Regions from separate parts of the Homo sapiens genome. Here region 2 is linked to region 1. The links come from fine-mapping of genetic effects on gene expression. Tissue or cell type: monocytes after LPS. Region 1 holds a variant in brackets; the other region holds the start of a gene. All regions are shown on one strand. Distances are from middle to middle.

Region 1 (8,097 bases):
AAGGATGGTAGCTCAGCATCAATTTAATGGGAGGAAAACTGTAATTTCTAGAATATCTGAGTTTGCAATGGAGATTCATGCTTACAACATAATACTGATGACCACCAACTTGCTTGTCTCTTGGTCTTTGTCCCTCCAGATTTAAAAATACTCTTTCAATTTCTTCCTCATGGCAGCATATATATATATATATATATGCTGGGGTCTCACTATAGTGCCCAGACTGGTCTCAAACTCCTGGGCTCAAGCGATCCTCCTGTCTCAGCCTCCCAAAGTGCTGGGATTGTAGGTGTAAACCACTGTACCTGGCCCCTCATGGCACTTTTTACAGCCTCCCTATTTTTCTGCAGATGTAAAATGAGAGTAAAGGAATCCAATAGAAATTTGGTCAGTATTGAAGGCAGAAAGGACTTCTCGGCATGTTATAATTGTGCTATTGCATTTTGGATTCATTTTGACTTTTTTCTGCCTTATGACCAACTTGACATCCACTATGCTTTCAAATCAATTTCTCCTACACTTAAGAAAATCTAGTTTTTTCTTCATTTAGGTTGGTATTTGATGGCCGCCTTCACATTGCATCAAAGTCGCCATGGATTCTATTCCTGTCTTTGAGGATATCAGCATCATCTTGAGAAATAATAGACATATATAAGTAAACATTCAGAAACTCAGAGCTGGTTGCTGTGGGGGCTTAAACCCACATTTGGGTTAAACCATTTGGGTGTACTCTTAGTAATCTGTGTATCCTTTGAACTATTCATGACTATCGTAGCCCATCAGGAGGGGTTTTGCAATGGCTTGGCATTCTCAGCCATGATAGAGACTAGACTGCGATGAAAGGTGAAAAAAAGAGGAAAGAAAGGAAGAGGGAGAAAAAATGAATGGGAGAGGAGACGAGATTGATAAGAAAGAAGTTCTGATCCCAGTGTGCAATGGCTGCAAACAGCAGCTTTCTTGGTGGTGTACATGGCCTGTTTCTTGTATGGGTTGCTCTAAGGGTCCTTGGAGACAGGCCTTTCAAATGTACGTTCATGTCTCTGACCTTGCACTACCCCCGATGTAGGCTCGAAACAGGCATTCAAGGTGCCTTTGGAAAGCCCCAGGGCACTGTGGCCAGGGTTCACATTGGCCAAGTTAAGTCCATCTGCACCAAGCTGCAGAACAAGGAGCATGTGATTGAGGCGCCATGCAGGGCCAAGTTCAAGTTCCCTGGCCACCAGAAGATCCACATCTCCAAGAAGTGGGGCTTTACCAAGTTCAATGTGGATGAATGAGAAGACATAGTGGCTGAGAAGCAGCTCATCCCAGATAGCTGCAGGGTCAAGTACATCCCCAGTCATGGCCCTCTGGACAAGTGGCAGGTCCGGCACTGGTGAGGGCTTCCACTGTGCTGCTCCCCACCCCCTACCTTTTTTTTTTTTTTTTTTTTTGAGACAGAGCCTTGCTGTGTTGTCCAGGCTGGAATGCAATGGCGCAGTCTCGGTTCACTGCAACCCCCGCCTCCCGGGTTCAAGCAATTCTCCTGCCTCAGCCTCCCAAGCAGCTGGGATTACAGGCGCCTGCCACCACACCCAGCTAATTTTTTGTATTTTTAGTAGAGATGGGGTTTCACTATGTTGGCCAGGCTGGTCTTCAACTCCTGACCTCGTGATCCGCCCGTGTCGGCCTCCCAAAGTGCTGGGATTACAGGTGTGAGCCACTGCACCCGGCCTCTGCCCCATCTTAATACCCACCAATAAATGCTACTTCCTGTCCAGGTAAAAAAAAAAGAAAAAAGAAAAAGAAAGAAAGAAGTGCTGATGTTTAGCACCAGAGAGGTGCCGAAGATGGGAAAGTGTGCTCAGTAGTCATCAAAAACATCTTCTAGTCCTCCTGGCGCTCTCCCTCCTCTACAGAGCACATGCCCTGGTTTCTTTTCTTTTTCTTTCTTTTCTTTTGAGATGGAGTCTCACCCTGTCTCCCAGGCTGGAGTGCAGTGGCGCGATCTTGGCTCACTGCAACCTCTGCCTCCCAGGTTCAAACGATTCTCTTGCCTCAGCCTCCCAAGTAGCTGGGATTACAGACACCCACCACCACGCCCAGCTAATTTTTGTATTTTTAGTACAGACGGGGTTTCACCATGTTGGCCAGGCTGGTCTTGAACTCCTGACCTTGTGATCCACCTGCCTCGGCCTCCCAAAGTGCTGGGATTACAGGTGTGAGCCACTGTGCCCAGCCTGCCCTGGTTTCTTACTGAGACTTTCACATGGGAACAGAATAGGAAGTCGTGCCCATGTACAAAAGTGACATTGGTCAGGTCCTCCTTGCTTCCCTGGCTGACTAGTTTATTAGAAAAGGAATTAAATGGGCATGATTTTAAAAATAAGATAGGTAGGAATCCAGTGCTGACTGGGGTGTCGTAAACAGCTTGATTTTTTTTCTGTGAATGGCACTGGCCACACATGCCTGCATTACTGGTCAGTCTGTCCTTGTCTCTAATTTGATCACATCTGTCCCTCTGAACCTGTGCATATGGCTTCAACAGAAGACTCCCTCTGAGTGAGTCAAGAGCATGCAGGATATTACTCTGACACCCACAAAGATAGAAGAGGGTGGTAGAATGGAAGGCAGAGGTTGCGTCCTACCTTAGTGGGGAAAATATGCAAAACTGGGGAAACATAAGAACCCCAGGTGAGAATGGGAAAAGCCCTGTTGAGGGATGGGTGGCAGAAGTAAGAACTGATGGGAGGGGCCGGGCACAGTGGCTCACGCCTGTAATCCCAGCACTTTGGGAGGCCGAAGCAGGTGGATCACTTGAGGTCAGGAGGTGGAGACCAGCCTGGCCAACATGGTGAAACCCCATCTCTACTGAAAATACAAAAATTAGCTGGGCATGGTAGTGAGTGCCTGTAATTTCAGCTACTTGGGAGGCTGAGGCAGGAGAACTGCTTGAACCTGAGAGGCAGAGGTTGCAGTGAGCCGAGATCATGCCACTGCACTCCAGCCTGGGTGACACAGCCAGGCCCTGTCTTTAAATAAAAACAAAAACAAAAAACTGATGGGAGGGAATAAGGAGGAATGGGAGGGCACAGTCCTTGAAGAGACCCATTGTTTCAGTCTATCAGTCAGGAGTTTTCATATTCTCATCCACGCTCCAATTACTCATTTCATAAATGCTTCTTCAACATAGATTCCTTATTAGCTCAGTGTGGCTATGGGTGCCTGTAATCCCAGCTACTTGGGAGGCTAGGGCAGGAGAATCGCTTGAACCCAGGAGGCGGGGGATGCAGTGAGCGGAGACGGCGCCATTGCACTCCAGCTGGGCAACAAGAACGAAACTCCATCTCAAAAAAAAAAAAAATAAA[G/C]AAACAAACAAACAAACAAACAAACACAGATTTCTTTAAAAGAAGTAATCCACTGTGGAGTTAAAAAAACAACAAACGGCCGGGTGCGGTGGCTCACACCTGTAATCCCAGCACTTTGGGAGGCCAAGACGGGTGGATCATGAGGTCAGGAGATCGAGACCATCCTGGCTAACACGGTGAAACCCTATCTGTGCTAAAAATACAAAAAACTAGCCGGGCGTGGTGGCGGGCAACTATAGTCTCAGCTACTTGGGAGGCTGAGGCAGGAGAATGGCGTGAACCCAGGAAGCGGAGCTTGCAGTGAGCCGAGATCGCGCCACTGCACTCCACCCTGGGCGACGAAGTGAGACACCATCTCAAAAAAAAAAAAATCTCATGGAAGTAGAGAGTAGAATGATAGATACCAGAGGCTGGGAAGGGTATGTGGGGGGAGTGTAAAGAGGGGTTGATTAATGGAGAGAAACATGTAGTTAGAAGGAATAAGTCCTAATATTCCACAGGAGAGTAGGATGATTCAAGTTAGCAACAATATATTGTATATTTCAAAACAGCTAGAAGAGAGGACTTGAAATGTTTCCATACATTGAAGTGGTAAATACTCGAGGTGATGGATACCCTAAATACCCTGGCTTGATCATTACACATTCCGTACATGCAACATATATCACATGTACCCCCAAAACACTTACAAATAGCACAAAAAGAAAACTCACACCCCATGGCCCTAGATAATGACAAGCACACAAATCACTTGACAATTTTCTGGGGTTTTTGTCTTCCCGGATTGCATCAGTCCAGGCATTAATAGCACCTGCCGCTTTCTTATCTTTGCAGAGAGCAATCTGCTTCTGAAGCTACATGTGGCAGCAAACTTAGATCCATACAACCTGGGTTTGTGCCTTGACTCTGATGCTTATTATCTGTGTAGTCACAAGTAAGCTGTTGCTTTTCTCAACATTCTTTCCTAATCCGAAACTCAGAGGGATATATATGGCAGTGGGGGCGGGGCAGGGGGAAGCAGGAAATGCATTTTGTGAAACAACTTGGTGGGTAAATGCTTATTATCTTTGACTGATTGGTGTTTGTTTGCCACAGATAAGATCATTGAAGTTGGAATTCTGGTACCTATGATTATCACCCAGCTTTCTTCAGTTTTTACCTTTTTATTTTTATTTATTTATTTATTTACTTTGAGACTGCATGCAGTGGTGCAATCTTGGCTCACTGGAACCTCGGCTTCCCGGGTTCAAGCGATTCTCCTGCGTCAGCCTCCCCAGTAGCTGGGATTACATGCACCCGCCACCATGTCTGGCTAATTTTTTATTTTTAGTAGAGATAGGGTTTCACCATGTTGGCAGGCTGGTCTCAAACTTCTGACCTCAAGTGATCTAACTGCCTCGGCCTCCCAAAGTGCTAGAATTACAGGCGTGAGCCACCGCGCTTGGCCCAGTTTTTCACCCATTGAAACACATTCAGGGTACAAATTATCCTTCAGTAATGAGAATAGAGCTAAGTACACTGTAGCTGCCCATGGCCATCACATGAACAGAGAGGAAAATTATGTGCTTAGCTCCCAAATGGTGCCCCAATTTTTTTTTCTTTTTGAGACAGAGCCTCACTCTGTCTCCCAGGCTAGAGTGCAGTGGTGCGAATTTGAATCACTGCAACCTCCGCCTCCCAGATTCAAGCGATTCTCCTGCCTCACCCTCCTGAGTAACTGGGATTACAGGCACCCGCCACCACGCCTAACTAATTTTTTGTATTTTAAGTAGAGACAGGGTTTTGCCGTGTTGGCTAGGCTGGTCTCGAACCCCTGACCTCATGATCCTCTCACCTCGGCCTCCTAAAGTGCTGGGACTACAGGCCTGAGCCACTGCTCCTGGCCCAGTGGTGCCCAAATTTTTAAAAAGCCCAACCTAAAGAAACTTCAGAATTCTCACTCTATCAAGTCCCAAGTGTCTGGCCCCACCCAAGACTTCTCTTCTCCAGCCTTCGCCCACCTCAACTTTATTCTCTACAGTTTGCATTCTCTGGTACCCAACAGGCTGTTATCCTGTGTGAGTTTGCCCACACTGCTCTCGAGACTCAGATGTCATATCCCGGCAGGTACCCTCGCAGTTTTCAGAGCAGTGGTGCTAAGGGTCTCTCTGCCATACCAGCCTGCTCACCTAAAATACACTGCTTACACTGTTTTATGAGGCAGGAGTTATCCTATCTCAGCACCTGGCCCAGGTAGTAGGTTCTTTAGAAACACTGAACTGAGTCACAAGACAACGCTAATGACTACAAGTTGATTCATGATTATTTAACTTGTTTTCAGCTGCTGCCAAGTCATATCTGATCAGCTAAACAATATCCAGTTTTCCCTTCTCGGTGCTCCATCATGGCATTCTACCTAACTGTATGGAAGCACTAGAAATAATACAAGGAAGTTTTTCCCCTGTCCTCTTGACTTCAGGACATTGATTTTCAAATTTGTGAACACAGACAATTTAGTGCTAATATTTTAATCAAAATTGGCTGGGCATGGTGGCTTATGACTGTAATCCCAGCACTTTGGGAGGCTGAGGTGGGCAGATCACCTGAGGTTCAGGAGTTAGAGACCTGCCTGGCCAAAATGGTGAAACCCCGTGTCTACTAAAAATGCAAAAATTAGCCGGGCATGGAGTCCTAGCTACTCAGGAGGCTGAGGCAGGAGGATCACTTGAACCTGGGAGGTGGGGGTTGCAGTGAGCCAAGATCGCAACACCACACTCCACCCTGCGTGACATAGTAAGACTGTCTCAAAAAAAAAAGAATAAAATTCAATCAGAATTATGCTAATCTGATGAATTCAACACCAATAAATTTTCCTTAAGAGGAAGGGGAGACGGTTGAGGCAGGAAAGTTGAAGCCAACCTACTGATCATACTTTCCCCATCTGATCCCAGCAATGCATCTACCATGAGGCTGCAGCAGGAGCTGGAGGGAAGGCTCTGTGTTTTGCTTAGGAAACACATTTTATTTCCCACATTAAAGCAAGCTGAGGGTTGCTGGGAGATGATGCGGTACCCCCAACAAAGAAAGGATCAGGCTCCATAGGGTTGGCAGCAGCAAGCTGGAGCTGGTGGCTTCAAGGAAGAGCAGGGGTTACCTCTCAGTGAGGGAAAAATAGGTGGTAAGAACAGGTGTACCCTTGGGCAAAGAACTCCATCAAGACAGGTATCAACAACTGCACCAGGACTGCCAGGTGCCCCAGCTGCACCTCGGGACTGCCCAGCATGAGCACACACTGTGCTGACAGCCTCCATGGTGCAACAACAGGGGTGAGAAGGCATCGCACCTACCTGTGGGGCCTGGAACCTCTGGGTGTATGGGCATCTCCTGCTTACCTATGACACCAGAACAGTATACTTATTCAGCAAACGCTCTTGTTCAACACATAGGGGCAGTATAGGCCCAGCTGCTCCATGCTTATTATGGTCACGAAAATCATTCCCAACATTTTTACTTTTTTTTTGAGAGAGAGTCTCACTGTGGCTGAGGCTGGAGTGCAGTGGTGCAATCTTGGCTCAGTGCAACCTCCGCCTCTCAGGTTCAAGTGATTCTTGTGCCTCAGCCTCCAAAGTAGCTGGGGTTACAGGGGTGCGCCACCATGCCCAGCTAATTTTCCTATTTTTAGTAGAGACATGGTTTTGCCATGTTGGCTAGGCTGGTCTCAAACTCCTGATCTCAAGTGATCTGCCTGCCTCGGCCTCCCCAAGTGCTGGTATTACAGGCCATTCCCAACACTCTTAATGCACTTTGCATGCCCCCTGCTGACTCAGTGCTTCCTTGGGACATGGACAGAACAAAGCTGGAGGGCATGGATGCAAGGTCTGAGTGCACATAGGACCATAAAGCATCACCATGCAACATTGCTAGAGGTGGCAGCAATTGTCAGCAATTGCAGCTACTAGCTAAGAAAAAATAAGAGGCCTGGGCTCAGTGGCTCACCCCTGTAATCCTAACACTTTGGGAGGCTGAGGTGGGCAGATCACTTGAGCCCAGGCATTTGAGGCCAGCCTGGGCAACATAGTGAGACCCCATCTTTACAAAAAATACAAAACCCAGCTGGGCATGGTGGTGTGTGCCTGTGGTCCTAGCTGCTTGGAGGTTGAGGTGGGAGGATTGCTTGAGCCCAGGAGTTTGAGGCCACAGTGAACCATGATTGTGCCACTGCACTCCAGTGACACTGGGTGACAGAGTGAAATCTTGCCTCAAAAATTAAAAAAAAAAAAAAAAAAAAAAGGGGGTGGGCACGGTGGCTCACGCCTGTAATCCCAGCACTTTGGGAGGCCAAGGCAGATGGATCACTTGATGCCAGAAGTTCAAGACCAGCCTGGCCAACATGGTAAAACCCTGTCTCTACTATACACAAATAATTAGCTGGGTGTGGTATCACATGCCTGTAGTCCCAGCTATTCATGAGGCTAAGGCAGGAGAATCACTTGAAGCCAGGAGGTGGAGGTTGCAGTGAGCCAGAATTGCACCACTGCTCTCCAGAGACTCTGTCACCACAAAACAAACAAAAAAAGAGAGATCAGAGCCTCTATGGTAGCAACCTCTATGGTATAACTAAAAGGTAGACCTTTTTAGTTGTGACTAGTTGTGTTAAGGGCACTGACAATTGCTTAAATTACAAGTAGAATTCTTAGTTTCAAGTCTTAGTCGACGGAATGCTGTGATTGAAAATACCAACTTCCTTTAAAAATATGCTAGAAATCAGACG
Region 2 (8,100 bases), 24 kb after region 1:
CCAACCTGGCTAACATGGTGAAACACCATCTCTACTAAAATACAAAAATTAGCTGGGTTTGGTGTCTGGCACCCGTAATCCCAGCTACTCGGGAGGCTGAGGCAGGAGAATTACTTCGACCTGGGAAGCGGAGGTTGCAGTGAGCGGAGATCACACCACTGCACTCTAGCCTGGGCAACAGAGAGAGACTCCCGTCTCTAAACAAAACAAAACAAAAAACCTGGGCATGGTGGTGCACACCTGTAGTCCCAGTTACTCGGGAGGCTGGAGCAGGAGAATTGGTTGAACCCGGGAGGCAGAGGCTGCAGTGAGCTGAGGCAGAGGCTGCAGTGAGCTGAGATGGCGCCACTGTGCCCCAGCCTGGGCGACAGAGTGAGACTCAAGAAAAAAAGAAAAAAAAAAAAAAGCCTGAACCCTCCTAGGTTTGCTGACTCCAACTTGGACTTTTGTATATTCTCCAGTGTCCGGCCTAGCCTAGAGTTTGGCTTGTTCTCAATAACTAGTTAACAGATAAATAATTCCCCATTTTCTTAAAATAACCTGGTCCCCTTGGCAAAACCTCCCACTTCAAAGCAGCAGGACTGATGTTTGGGAAAATTGCCCAGAAACTGCCCTCCGCTAATGGATCACCAGTCAACCAGCAAGTATTATTGAGGGCTTGCTTTATGCACTGACCTACACATTGTGGGAAAACAGAAAGTAGAAGTTCTTGTTGTGAAAGACTTTTTGATTAAGTTGAAATGAAAGAAATAATTAGCTACTAAACTTTGCTGTGCCCAACAGGAAGTTCCTTGTGTCTAGGCTCTAGTAGGGGTTAGAGAGAAAGTGCTTTTCACCACCAGTCCCCACCCAAATATTTACTTTCTGTGGGTCAAAGAAGAACAATTTTCCATGAGGACATCATGGCAGACTGGCTAGAGTGACAAACTTCAGTCTATGCTGGAAAAGGGGCTCAGGACTTCCCTTCCAACAAGACCTGGTGCTCCCAGCTGTTTTCTCACCTCCTTCCCCCGCACTATTTGATGTTACAAGAGGGTCTAACCCCCCGTTTCCTTAGTTCTTCCAGGCACCTTTTATGAGCTGAAACCTCCTTTGGTTTCCAGTTCTGGGAACTTGCAGAACCTGGTCAGAGCTATTACAGAGGATATCTGTGCACTCCACAAGCACGATGGTCCCCGCAAGTCCTCTGATCAGTTTATCCCCACCAACTTATCCTGCCTGATAAAGGCTTCCCCTTTATCTCCCACTGATTGAATCAGTGAGCTTGGTATTTCACGTGATAAAGAGGTCGGTGGGAAGAGCATAGTCAAGAGGAGATGGTTCATTTGCTTGTGTTACTATTAAAGAAATGGCAAAATAGTCTACTGGTCAAAAGCTGACACTGTAGTAAGTTTTTCTTTAAAACTGTATAAGGACAGAGAATACCAGCCCCAGGAAAGAGGGGCTCCAGGTAGTTTCTGAAGGGGTGAGGGAAGGGTTGCTTCTTCACAGGAGTCAAAGGACAGGATCTCTCAGTCACTTTTCTAAGAAGTGCAAAGAGGGCCAGACAAGGTGGCTCCTGCAGGTAATTCCAGCATTTTGAGAGTCCGTGGTGGGAGGACTGCTTGAGCCCAGGAGTTCAAGACCAGCATAGGCAATGTAGTGAAACCCTATCCCCAAAAAGTAGATTAATTAATTAATTAATTAAAAATTAGCCAGTAGCCAGGTATGGTTGCACACACCTGTGGTTCCAGCTATGCTGGGAGGCTGAGGCAGGAGGATCCCTTCAGCCTGGGAGTTGGAGGCCGCAGTGAGCCCTGATCGTGCCACTGCACTCCAGCATGGTTGTCGGAGTGAGACCCTCTCTCAAAAAAAAAATTAAAGTAGGCTGGGCGCAGTGGCTCACGCCTGTAATCCCAGCACTTTGGGAGGCTGAGGTGGGCAGATCACCTGAGGTCAAAAGTTCAAGACCAGTCTGAACAACATGGAGAAACCCCCTCTCTACTAAAAATACAAAATTAGCCGGCCATGGTGGCACATGCCTGTAATCCCAGGTACTCGGGAAGCTGAGGCAGGAGAACCGCTTGAACCCGGGAGGCGGAGGTTGTGGTGAGCCGAGATCACACCATTGCACTCCAGCCTGGACAACAAGAGCGAAACTCAGTCTCAAAAAAATAAAAAATAAAAAATAAAAAAAATAAAGCAGCAAGTCTAAAATCTGATATGAAAGGGCGCTGCCCAGAAAGGGCAGTGTTACTGACAGCTGCCTCATTTCTCCCTAAGTCTCTGTTCCATTGTCTCGGCCAACCTATGAAAGCACTGACATCAGAATGTCTCATCTCATCTGGCAGGCTGGGAGCAGGAATGACGTCAGACAAGGGCTGGCCAAGAAAGACCAGGGGATCTGGGAACTGCTTCTCTTTCCCAGCCAACGGGAATCTTTCCCAGATGCTAGGGTGCAAGGGCCTTCCTCAACCCCCATCCTCTGCCCCCTCTCCCACAAAACCGCCTATCACACACGGCTTGGTTCATTTTCAGGAAATGAGATCCGACCAGCAAAAGGAGGAAGGCGGGGTGGGGGGATGTGGGGTATACATGCTACCCAAACCCTGCCTCAAAACAAAGCCTCTTGACATAATTAATCCAAGATCTGGCAGGAGTCTACTCTAAAGAATGATTTTTTTCCCCCTGTAACTAGCTCGCTTGCCATACTGAGAGATAAGGCCAGCTGCTTCCCATCTCTCTCTCCCAGAAACTCTCCAAGCATCGGAACAACGCGGTCAAGACTAGGACCCCAGGAGGACTGGAGCGGGTGGGGTGGGGGGCGATTAGTATCCAAGGTTTTGAAGTGTCCCGCTCAGAAACACCTACCTTTCAGGTAGCTCGCTGAGGAATCAGACTCCAGCCTAACCCAGTATCACCTGAACCTCCAAAAAGCCTCAGGTGAAATGAACTAACTTAGAAGCATCACCCAGGCCTGGGGAGAAATGGGGCGAGGGGTTGTCGCGTCTGGAGGTGTGGCCTTCACTTGGGCTCAGGAGCAGACACCCTAATCTGGCCTTGTGGCCAGAAACACGGCTCCCGCCAGGCCAGCCTCGCACCCCAGGGACAGCCGGGCGCGGAGCTCTCTGCGAGGGTTTATCAACTCAGGAAAACGGCTTTTTTTTAGATGGAGTTTCGCTCTTGTTGCCCAGGCTGGAGTGTAATGGCACGATCTAGGCTCACTGCAATCTCCGCCTCCTGGGTTCAAGCGATTCTCCTGCCTCAGCCTCCCAAGTAGCTGGGCTTACAGGCATGCGCCACCACTCCCGGCTAATTTTGTATTTTTAGTAGAGACGGAGTTTCTCCATGTTGGTTAGGCTGGTCTCGAACTCCCGACTTCAGGTGATCCGCCCGCCTCGGCCTCCCAAAGTGCTGGGATTACAGGCGTGAGCCACCGCGCCTGGCCGAAAGCGACTCTTTAATCCAGTCTTCCGCAAGCACCCAAGCCACGCCAGCAGCCCGTGGGAAACCAACAAAGCCAGAGGAAGCTACCCCCGCGCCCAGTCCCGCACGCTGCACGGTATACATATTTACAATAGCCTGCAAAGTTTCAGGCCGGGAACTTGAGCTCCCTCTAGGAGATCCCAGCCCGAGTGCGGATTTAATTCTCCTCCAACAACCACAACAAAGAACAGAGTTTGAGCGCACAAAGGCAGGGGAAGGGGGTAGAAGAGCCGGGCCGCCACACAAAGGCCGGGAACCCCTCGGCTCCCACGCCCCCGGCCCGCCGCCAGTCCGGAGGCCCCTTCCAGGCTCTGGAGTGAAACCTGGATAGTTTCAAATTCCGCGCTGTGCAGAGCAGAGTGGGGCGCCAAGACGCCTTCTCGACTGTCCCATTTCAGGAGAAACTTGGTTCCCGAGGGAGGACCAGCGCGCTGCTGTCCGACCTCGCACCCCGCGCCGCGGCTCCCACCAGCCCCACGTAGGCTCGGCCCTCGCCCCGGGGACTCACCGTTACACCACTGGAATGGGTGCATCAATGAAGTCGCGGTTGGCTTCCTCGGGCGAACGGACGCAGGCGGGGTGCCAGGAGGGCGGGGTGGGAGCACTAGCGGCGTGAGGGGCCGCAGGCGGGGTCGGGGCAGCGCGCTGCAGCCGCCCTGCTGGAGAAGCCGAACTCCCTCCGGAGTGGGGGGCTTTGACGAGGCTGGTGTTCAGCCCAACAAAGAGGGACGAGGAGGAAACAAACAAAGTCCCGCGGAGCACAGCCGCACGGAGCGCACGCGCCAAGGGCCCCGGGCTGGGGGAATGTGGGGCGCCGCGGGGCGGGGGTGCCCGGGCTGCAGAAGCCCTCGGCCGGGGGAGGAGGGAAAAACCTTTGCCGGAGGCTCGGATCGGGTTCAGCGGCGCAGAGGTGAGCTGGCTGGGGTTCCGAAACTGACACCCGGCGGTGCACACCCCCTCCCTTTTACTTCCCCCACCAGTCCCCAGGAAAACTCCGCCCCTTGTTCGTCACCCTCCCTCCGACCAATCGGAGCCTTTCTCCTGCCCCCGGCTATTATTTGCAGGCCCAGCCTCCCTTCCCTGGAAGCCGGGAGGATCTTCGCACGGTGGGCGCCTCCCACTTAGTCTTCCCAGGCCTGGGGAAACTTCGGTCTGCAGAGAATGGAGCGGCGACGAGCGATGCCCCGGAGTGGGGGCCTGCCTTTTGCCCAGGGACACCAAGGCAAAGGAACAATTACTGCCACATTGTTTTCCGCCTACAGATCTGTTATTTATTTACTTATGTATTTGGAGGCAGAGTCTGCCTCTATCGCCAAGGCTGGAGTGCAGCGGCGCGATCTCAGCTCACTGCAACCTCTGCCTCTCGGGTTCAGGTGATTCTCCTGCCTCAGCCTCCTGAGTAGCTGGGATTACAGGCGCTTACCACCATGCCCAGATAATTTTTGTATTTTTAATAGCGACGGGGTTTCGCCATGTTGGACAGGCTGTTCTCGAACTCCTGGCCTCAAGTGATCCTCCTGCTTCAGCCTTCCAAAGTGCTGGGATTATAGGCGTGAGCCACCGCTCCCGGCCCTCTTTTTCTTTTTTGAGTTAGAGTCTTGCTCTGTCACTCAGCTGGAGTGCAGCGGTGCAATAATAGCTTACTGCAGCCTCCAACTTCTGGGCCCAAGCAGTCCTGCCACCTTAGCCTCCCAAGAAACTGGGACCACAGGTGCCTGCCACCAAGCCCAGCTACTTTTTAATTGTTTTGTATAGATGAGTGGCCTCACTATGTTGCTCAGGCTGGTCTCGAACTCCTGGACTCAAGTGATCCTCCCGCCTGAGCCTCCCAGATTGCTGGGATTACAGGCATGAGCCATGGCACCCAGGACATTTCATTTCTTAATTGGATAATTGCAAAAGCTTCCTAACTGGCCATTCTGATTCTAGTCTATAGCTCAGACTTCAGAGCCTACAAGAATCACTCCTATGTTTGAGATGTAACATGCAGATTCCCAGGCCTTGAACCCAGAGATTCTGATTCAATAAAGGGTGGACCCAGAAATTTTCATTTTAATGTGCCTTGTCTTCCCCACCCCTCAAATTCTCATGCGGCTATTGAAAGAAACAGTGCTCTGATTTCACTCTCAAGTCCATCCCTTCTGGTCACAATTATCTCTGTAAAATGTAAATCTGAACATTTCTTTGCTTGATAACGTTTGTTGGTCTCCAGTGTTTACTGAATAAAGTTCTGTAAACTAGAGTGTGGCATTCAAAATGTTTCAGTCTAGACTCACTCCTATAATCTCAAAACTTCGGGAGGCTGAGGCGGGCAGATTGCTTGAGCTCAAGAGTTTGAGACCATCCTGGGCAACATGGTGAAGCCACCTGTAAAAAAAATACAAAAATTAGCTGGGCCTGGTGGTGCGCACCTGCGGTCCCAGCTACTCTGGTGGCTGAGGTGGGAGAATCACTGGAGTTCGAGAAGTCGAGGATGCAGCTGCAGTGAGCTGTGATTGTGCCACTGCACTCCAGCCTGGGCGACAGAATGAGACTACTCTGTTTCAAAAAGAAAAAAGAAAAAACTATTAAAATAAAGTGTTTCAGTCTAGCCTTATTTGTTTCAGTCTTCCTCATACTCAAATACTCCCCTTCACCACACACTATTCATCAGCCATGAAGCTTTTTGTTGTTACTCTTCCTTGAACATAGGCTGTGTATATTCTTTTTTGTTGTTGTTTTTATTTATTTAGAGACAAGGTCTGGTTCTGTTGCCCAGGTTTGAATGCAGTTGCATGATCTTGGCTCACTACAACCTCCACCTCCTGGGTTCAAGCCATCCTCCCACCTCAGCCTCCTGAGTAGCTGGCACTACAGGCACTCACCACTATGCCCGGCTAATTTTTTTTTTTTTTTTTTTTTTGTAGAGACTGGGTTTAGCCACGTTGCCCAGGCTGGTCACAAACTCATGAGCTCAGGCTATCTGCCTGCTTCAGCCTCCCAAGTGCTAGGATTAATGGGGGAGGCTATACATGTGTGGGGCTGGGGGTGTATCAGAACTCTGTACCTTCTTCTCAATTTTGCTGTGAACCTAAAACTACGCTGAAAAATAAAGTCTTTAAAAAAAAAAGTGTGCATAATGGTAACTATTGTTCTTTCTATTCATTGGCTCGGGGGAGAGATGTGATGGGTAATCCTAATTTTATTAAGGCTCTCCTGCTAACTGCCTCCAGCGCCAGACTGTGAAAGAAGGAGAGCCTTTGAAGGGAAAATTGATGGGAAGTGAGGAACACCTCCCGTCCCACTCGCCTTTGGACTAGAGGTTCTTGGAAGGAAAACACCCTTAAAGGTAGGAATGATGGAAATTCTTCTTTTTTTGAAACGGAGTCTTGCTCTGTGTCGCCCAGGCTGGAGTGCAGTGGCTTGATCTCAGCTCACTGCAGCCTTCGCCTCCCAGGTTCAAGTGATTCTCCTGCCTCAGCCTCCTGAGCAGCTAGGATTACAGGTGCAACAATTTATATTTTAAGCCTGATATTTTAAGCATTCAATAAGATCTCCAGAGGCACTTAAGGACTCCAATTTCGAAAAACTGCTGTATCCCTTCACACTCTCCTCCCTTCGTCCCTCCTGGCCAGTGTGGCCACAGGACCTCAACTGATGGCTGACATTGGGAGTTATATGTTGGTAGAAGGGCTTTGGTTCTGGGCATCTTTGAAATGATTGGTTCAGTCCCAGCATTTTCCTGGACTGAAGGGTTCTATGAAAGATAAGCTGATTTCTCACACCATGTCAACCAAATTTAGATCTCTCACTCCTCCACCCTCACCACCAGGTGACTCAGCTCCACATGAGTCAGGAAGACTAGTTTGGTTTATTGAGGAAGAAACTGAAACAGTAAAGAAGATGATGGGCCATATATTCAAAGCTACTTGATAAATATGAGGTAGAAATATGTTTCTAGGATGGGTGTGGTAGCTCACACCTCAGCACTTTGAGAGGTTGAGGTGAAGGAGCTTGAGCCAGGAGTTGGAGACCAGCCTGGACAACATAGCAAGACCCCATCTCTACAAAAAATAAACATCAGCTGGGCATGGCGGCACATGCCTGTAGTCCCAGCTACTCCAGAGGCTGAGGTGTTCAAGGCTGCAGTGAGCTATGATTGTGCCACTAGACACTAGCCTGAGCAACAGAGCAAGACAAAAGAAAAGAAAAGAAAGAAATATGTTTTAAAATCTTCCATGGAAAGGGAAAAAATAATACTAAACTTCCGGAAAAACTTTTTTTTAAAATTAATTAATTTTTTTATACAGGGTCTTGCTCTGTCACCCAGTGGTGCAGTGGTGACATCTCGGCTCACTGCAACTTCCACCTCCCAGGCTCAAGCGATCCTCCCACCTCAGCCTCCCGACCAGCTGGGACTACAGGCGCATACTACCATGCCTGGCTAATTTTCTGGGGTTTCGCCATGTTGCCCAGGCTGGTCTCAAACTCTTGAACTCAGGCAATCCCTCAGCCTTGGCCTCCCAAAGTGCTGGGATTACAGGCAGGAGCCACCGTGCCTGGCCTAGGAAAGCTTCTGAGGAGTCAAGGGATTCTTTTTATTCCCACTGCCTGACTCCAGCTTCCTCTTAGACACTCCGTGAGCCCCCTCATTTT

Direction of the effects. Positions count from the first base shown, and alleles are read on the strand shown. Sizes are in standard deviations (SD) of each study's normalised expression.
In carriers of allele G in region 1, the expression in monocytes after LPS of the gene that starts at base 4,403 in region 2 tends to be higher than with C alone (large effect, 2.0 SD a copy in Quach 2016).

What was found. PIP is the estimated chance that this variant, and not a neighbour inherited with it, causes the effect.
Region 2: RNF122 starts here. The variant in region 1 is fine-mapped to the expression of RNF122 in monocytes after LPS (Quach 2016, PIP 0.95).

Annotation. Positions count from the first base shown.
Region 1 is chr8:33,539,121-33,547,217 of GRCh38, forward strand. It overlaps the pseudogene LOC124900261 and the pseudogene RPL10P18. Among named protein-coding and RNA genes, the nearest start is that of RNF122, 24 kb to the right of the region's middle. RefSeq lists a silencer at 6,721-6,790. The variant G/C (reference allele first, on the strand shown) is at 3,348.
Region 2 is chr8:33,562,726-33,570,825 of GRCh38, forward strand. It overlaps RNF122 (ring finger protein 122), which reads right to left and starts at 4,403. Exons shown (of 6, transcript NM_024787.3): 1 at 3,974-4,403. The coding sequence starts at 3,998. RefSeq lists silencers at 3,778-3,827, 3,968-4,017, 4,048-4,117, 4,168-4,287.